2 linked regions of the Homo sapiens genome follow. The protein of the gene in region 2 interacts with the protein of the main gene of each other region in a biochemical or structural test. Each region holds a gene or a part of one and is shown on either strand. Other genes may lie near its edges.

Region 1 (3,820 bases), on a different chromosome or scaffold from region 2:
TTTTGTATTTTTAGTAGAGACAGGGTTTCACCACATTGGCCAGGCTGGTCTCGAACTCCTGACCTCAGGTGATCCACCTGCCTTGGCCTCCTAAAGTGCTGAGATTACAGGTGTGAGCCAGCACACCTGGCCCCTAATTTTTGTATTTTTAGTGGAGACAGGGTCTCACCATGTTGACCAGGCTGGTCTCAAACTCCTAACCTCAAGTGATCCTCCTGCCTCAGCCTTCCAAAGTGCTGGGGTTACAGGTGTGAGCCACCATGCCTGGTCATTTTTTATTTTTTGTAGAGATGGGGTCTCACTATGTTGCCCAGGCTGGTCTCAAACTCCTGGGTTTAAACAGTCCTCTCATTTCAGCCTCCCAAAGTTCTGGGATTACAGGCATGAGCCACCATGTGTGTCCTTTGCTTAACTTATAAATTCATCCCACTTGGTGCTGTGGTGGGGACACTGTGTCACAGGGGCTCTGCTAACCAAAGGTCCCATGAGCACCTCATTTCATGGCTGGGTAAACCGAGGCCCAAACATCTCAGGGCAAGGATTTCAGCCTGAGGGCTGTTTGTCCTCTCTGAGCTTTGGTTTTCTTTCTTTTTGAGGAGGGTGGGGAGACTGGGTTCTTGCCATTTTGCCCAGACGCTGGGCTGAACTTGTGATTCTCCCACATTGGCCTCTCAAATAGATGGAAACTCGGCAAGTCTCAGTTTTCTTAAAAAAAAAAAACAAAAAAACAAAAAAACCAGACCAACCATTGTTCACTGAGCTGGTCTCTAGCACCAGCACTGTCACCCTGAAGTCTGTCCCATCCTGCCCAGTGTCCTGCACGTGGGGTTCCCCACTCTGGTGGCAGAGTGGCCATTGGAAGTTTGGTTTGTGCCCCAGTGTTGGGCCAGCCCCCTCTGGACAGCTAGTGGGCAGAGCTGAGGGTAGGAGTGGGGGCTCAGGGGAGCGGGTGCCTGTTTGAGCTGCCAGGTGACAGGCTGCATGTCCCTGGACCCTGGCAGGGAACGGGCTGTTGAGGAAGAAGACGCTGGTCCCAGGGCCGCCAGGTTCGAGCCGCCCGGTCAAGGGCCAGGTGGTCACCGTACATCTGCAGACGTCGCTGGAGAATGGCACACGGGTGCAGGAGGAGCCGGAGCTGGTGTTCACTCTGGGTGACTGTGACGTCATCCAGGTGCGGGCTGGGGCGGGACAGGGCAGGGGCGAGGGGCGTGCCTTGCTGGGTCTGAGTCTGCCTGACAGCTGGCTATCCCCACACACCCCAGGCCCTGGATCTCAGTGTCCCACTCATGGACGTGGGGGAGACGGCCATGGTCACTGCTGACTCCAAGTACTGCTACGGCCCCCAAGGCAGGTGAGAGTCAGCCACCCTTAGGTCTCTGCAGGTCTCAGGAGGGGGATGGGTGGAGTGGGTGTACCCCTCGGCTCACCCCATCTACTTGCCCATTTTATAGACAAGAAACTGAGGCTGGGTGAGGTGGCTCACACCTGAAATCCCAGCACTTTGGGAGGTTGAGGTAGGAGGATTGCTTGAGACCTGGAGTTCCAGACCAGCCTAAGCAATATAGACCGCATCTCTATACAAAAAAATTTAAAAATTAGCTGGGTGTGGGCCGGGCGTGGTGGCTTACGCCTGTAATCCCAGCACTTTGGGAGGCCAAGGCGGGTGGATCATGAGGTCAGGAGATCAAGGCCATCCTGGCTAGCACGGTGAAACCCCGTCTCTACTAAAAATACAAAAAATTAGCCAGGCGTGGTGGTGGGTGCCTGTAGTCCCAGCTACTCTGGAGGTTGAGGCAGGAAAATGGCGTGAACCCGGGAGGCGGAGCTTGCAGTGAACCGAGATTGCACCACTGCACTCCAGCCTGGGCAAGAGAGCAAGACTGTCTCAAAAAAAAAAAAAAAAAAAAAAAAAAGCTGGGTGTGGTGCACACCTGTAGTCCCAGCTACTGAGGAGGCTCAGGCAGGAGGATCACTTGAGCCCACGTTTTTGAGGCTGCAGTGAGCCAAGATTGCACCACTGCACTCCAGCCCGGGCAACAGAGTGAGAACCTGTCTCTTAATAAAAAGGAGGAAAACCGAGGCTTAGGGAGGGGAACTCGTTCGTCAAGTCCCGCAGCTCCAAGGCGGCAAGTCACTTCCCCTGCACTTTACTGAGGAGGGAATGATGGAGGGCAGAGGGGAGACAGATCGGGGGCTTGAGCCAAGCTCACTCCTTCCTAGCCAGCCCAGCGGGTTTAGGGGTCACCAGGTCTGAGTGCTGCCCCTGCCTGCTCCCACCCAACTAGCAGGAGCCCATACATCCCCCCGCACGCGGCCCTGTGCCTGGAGGTGACCCTGAAGACGGCTGTGGACGGGCCTGACCTGGAGATGCTCACGGGGCAGGAGCGCGTGGCCCTGGCCAACCGGAAGCGGGAGTGCGGCAACGCCCACTACCAGCGGGCGGACTTCGTCCTGGCCGCCAACTCCTACGACCTCGCCATCAAGGCTATCACCTCCAGCGCCAAAGGTGACCGCCTGGGTCAGATCTCCACCATCTCCCCTGCAAAGGTGTCCACTCCGTGCCAGAAACTTCCAGCCCCAGAGAGCCTCAGACTCAGAATATTCTAGAATAGCCCAGAATATGGGTAGATCCCCAACTGCCCCTAAGCTAGGGCCTGTTACAGACTCGTGGTATATCCCAGACCAGTGGAGTGTTGTAGAATGCAAGTGGATATGGGGATGGGGTGACCATAGACAGGGCCAGTTCACATGTACCACAGGCTAGGCCCTCGCTTGCTTAAGTCTCCATCTTGTAGCTTCCTCAGGAGAGCCCCAGGAAAGCGTGGCCCTTGGTCCGGGGTTAAAATTGGGGAAACTGAGGCCAGAGAGGCAGCCTCCGCAGAGGGGTGGGTGCCGGGGTGTCTGGTGGCATGGTGACGGCTGCCGTGGCGGGCACTGTCTCCCAATAGTGGACATGACGTTCGAGGAGGAGGCACAGCTCCTGCAGTTGAAGGTGAAGTGTCTGAACAACCTGGCGGCCTCGCAGCTGAAGCTCGACCACTACCGCGCAGCCCTGCGCTCCTGCAGCCTTGTGCTGGAGCACCAGCCAGACAACATCAAGGCTCTCTTCCGCAAGGGCAAGGTAGGCCACACCGGGGTGCCAGGCCGGGTCACTCAGCCTGGGGTATACGGGGTGGTCCCCAACCCTGCATTTGAGAAAGGCATAGGTATATAAGCCAGCTGAGCTCTGTGGGGTGCAGGTGGAGAAACTGAGGCCCAGACGGGTGCAGGAGTGTGGCCTGGTCACAACAATTCATTGGCTGAGGCCAGAATTTGATCCTCGAGTCTTGGGTCCCCAACCTTTGGCCCAGTGTTTTTTGTTTGTTTGTTTGTTTGTTTCTTGAGACAGAGTCTCACTCTGTCACCCAGGCTGGAGTGCAGTGGTGTGATCTCAGCTCACCACCGCAACCTCCTCCTCCTGGGTTCAAGCGATTGTCCTGCCTCAACCTCCCAAGTAGCTGGGACTACAGGTGCGAGCCACCACACCCAGTTAATTTTTGTATTTTTAGTAGAGATGTGGTTAGCCATATTGGCCAGGCTGGTCTCGAACTCCTGACCTCAAGTGATCTGCCCGCCTCAGTCTCCCCATGTGCTGAGATTACAGGCCTGAGCCACCGTGCCCGGCTTGGCCCAGTGTTGAAACCTCCTCCCATAGAACCTCCATGGGTCCCAGTTTTCCTCAGAGTAAAGTGGAATCCTAGTCACAGCCCTTGGGGCCTTGAGTTGTCTGGTCTTCCCCCTCCTGCTATCACTTCTCCCACCTCACTTTCTGCTTCTCTCC
Region 2 (3,056 bases):
TACCCTGCAACCCCCAGGTACCCAGAACACCCCTCCCTCTTCTAGGCTCCAACTCTCCTATCCCCTGGCGTCCCAAACATTTGTTATTCCCAACCTATCTTTCCCATCTATTTTCCACTACTACTATAAGACGTGGGGCTCCAATCAAACCAGACTGCTTTCTGCTCTTCAAACATGCCTTCCCCTTTGTCTTTGCTATTCTGACCATCTGGAGTTCCTTTACCTGCCCTACCCTCTCCCTGCAGTGTACGTATTTCCTGACTCTCCCAATCAGATGTGCTTCTCCCCTTTTTTATTCCCATAGTATTAGCTGGTCTCACCTTTTCAGAAATGACATTGGCCATACTTCCTGCTGTATTGGCATCTGTCTTACCTCTGCATTTGTCTTGAGTGTTATGTGGTATCGGCTGCTGTATATTGTGAAGAAACTAGCACATCACCTCTCATGCAGGGAACTGTAGTGGGTACTTGTTGAAATTGAAGAGCTATACTGGACCTCATGGCACTTAGCTGACTTGAGCAAAGCCAGTTTTTGTTTGTTTGTTTTTGTCTATGACAGAAGCATTAAGGCACAAAGGCCAACCATCCTCTTGACTTTAGATACGCACACCAAAATTCCCAAGAGTCCAAATAATCCATTACATCTCTGGCTCTCTTACATTTTTCTAAAATTTCTAAAATCTCTTTTCAGTCAGTATCCTCTGAATGATCTAGAACTCTATTTTCCTATTTGTCCAAATCTACACCTCTCAAACTTCAGAGAATATCACCAAAGGGCATTATATAGGTTTAGGATCTGGTGTGTAGCCCGTAGTGATGCTCACTCCACCTGTCCTGTCCTGATATTTCTGGATTACAATCATGACTCCTCTATACTCTCATCTTCCGGACTAATGGATTACAGAGGTTACATAGCATAGGATGGATGACCACTTAGCAGGTGTGTTGTAGAGAAGATTTAGGTATAGGACGGGGGCTAGACCTTGCCAACCATGGTTTGGTCCATCCCGTCCTCTTGGTCTTTTCTATGATCATCTGTGGCCTTATGTTCCGTTTTTGCCTTTCCTTAACAATAACGCGGCAACATTTTCAGTGAATGATTATCAAGTACATCCTCTTTGCCAAGCATTATTCTAATTGACTTACCCGTCTTAGCTCATTTAATCTTCTCTAATAACTCTATCATTATCTTCACTTTATAGATGAGGAAACAGAGGCACAGCATGTTGAAGTCATTTGCCCAGGATTACACAGTCAGTAATTGGTGGAGCTGGGCTTCTAACCTTGACTGCTGTTTGTATTCCAGGTACATCTCCAGCTTTTGCGCAAGGGATGCAGGACGTTGCTGTTGAGGCTGGTGTGTTCCACTACTTGAATAAGCTCGGTACCGGTTAGAAACAGAGCTCTGTGTGTACTCCAGAGTATGCAGAATTAAACAAATCCTAGTAGGGACTTCTGGCAACATATAATTGAATCTTTCAATATTCCCATACTGCCCCCATACTGTTTTTTTGGTCAATATCAACATCTTGATATTGTCAAGGGTATCATCTGGTCTGAAAATTGTGTTCAAAACATCCTGAATTTCAACTCCTGTTAGATCTTATCCCTCTAAAATGTCTCAGTGGGTCACATGGGAGTTGGTAGCTCCTTAAAGTCTTCCCTGGGAAAGACATAAGCTAGAAATGATAGTCTATCTTATTTTTAATCCCTGGCTTCACTTTATTTCCAGTGGTCATTCAATAGCCACACTGATCAACTAGCTGGTTTTCTCTCTTTGGTGCATTAAATTAAAAAAAAGAAAAAAAGCAAAACTTATTGTTATTGGTTTTAGCAACCTAACAAAGTACTCCTTAACTGCAATTATGGCCTTTCTGATTCCTGCTTGTGGGCAGAAGGAATAGTTCTTCCTTTCCCTCTGTGATCATCGATTTGACTTTTTCACAAGTCATTTATCAGAAGTGTGTGTGTTTTGAGGGGGTGGGGAAGGTTTCTCTTCTGTCTTGTCACTCACAACATCCTCCTCCAATCCTGTAATGCTTTTCATTGTCAGCACATATTTATTCTGGATATCCAATAAGATGTTCATTTAAAAATAATATCTGCCGTGTTTTTTTTGTCAGCTTCATACTTTACAAGCTTTACGTTTTCGGCGTTTGCAGCAAACTCTGCATTCTTTTACCATATGGAATAGTTGCCAATGGATTTTTCTGTTGATGTTCCTCCACAACCCCTCGGTATGTTCTGATACCGCCTGCTTCCAATCACTAGTCCACATTCTGTTCCCTCCTGACAACCAAGCACATTCAGAATGCTTGATTTTTCTCTCTTGAAGATTTGATAACCACCTCGTTTAGGAAAATAGGCATTTGTTTGTCCCCAGGAGGCACCGTGGTCATTATTTTCTTCCTTTTTCAGTTCTTCCCAGTAGCAATGCCTAGCATTTTCCAGTTGTTCACTGTCTCAGGGCCCTGATCAATCCAGCACAGTAATCTCCACCAGGAGCAGATTTCTCCATTTTAGTTTTTTTTTTTTTTTTTTTTTTTGAGGCAAAGTCTGGATCTGTCACCCAGGCTGGAGTGCAGTGGTGCAGTCTCTGCTCACTGCAACCCCCACCTCCCGGGTTCAAGTGATTTTCGTGCCTCAGCCTCCCAAATATCTGGGATTACAGGTGCGTGCCACCATGCCCGGCTTATTTTTGTATTTTTAGTAGAAATGGAGTTTCACCACGTTGGCCAGGCTGGTCTCAAACTCCTGACCTCAGGTGATCTGCCTGCCTTGGCCTCCCAAAGTGCTGGAATTACAGGCATGAGCCACCATGCCCGGCCTCCCATTTTAGTTTTGATGTTCTTCTTCTATGTTGCTGTTTTAGTGCCAGCCTCCTGGTGCCATTTTACCTCCATTAAAGCTTTGCCTGATCCAGAAAGCCCATAATCTCTAAAAGATCTGGGGCTCATCTTAGCACCATGGCCCCATTTACTCATGGAGGCTCAAAGTTTTTCTCTTCTGAAATGACGTGTCCTTCTGAGAACACCTCCATGTCCCATCACACACTC

Evidence for each region.
Region 1: the proteins of CLCN1 (region 2) and FKBP8 form a complex in vitro, tested with the Homo sapiens proteins (one study listed by BioGRID).

The regions. Positions count from the first base shown.
Region 1 is NC_000019.10:18,536,902-18,540,721, reverse strand, and holds part of FKBP8 (peptidyl-prolyl cis-trans isomerase FKBP8), read left to right. Parts: intron 1-1,001; coding exon 1,002-1,171; intron 1,172-1,262; coding exon 1,263-1,351; intron 1,352-2,285; coding exon 2,286-2,506; intron 2,507-2,948; coding exon 2,949-3,121; intron 3,122-3,820. UniProt on the Homo sapiens protein: Constitutively inactive PPiase, which becomes active when bound to calmodulin and calcium. Seems to act as a chaperone for BCL2, targets it to the mitochondria and modulates its phosphorylation state.
Region 2 is NC_000007.14:143,347,111-143,350,166, reverse strand, and holds part of CLCN1 (chloride channel protein 1), read right to left. Parts: intron 1-3,056. UniProt on the Homo sapiens protein: Voltage-gated chloride channel involved in skeletal muscle excitability.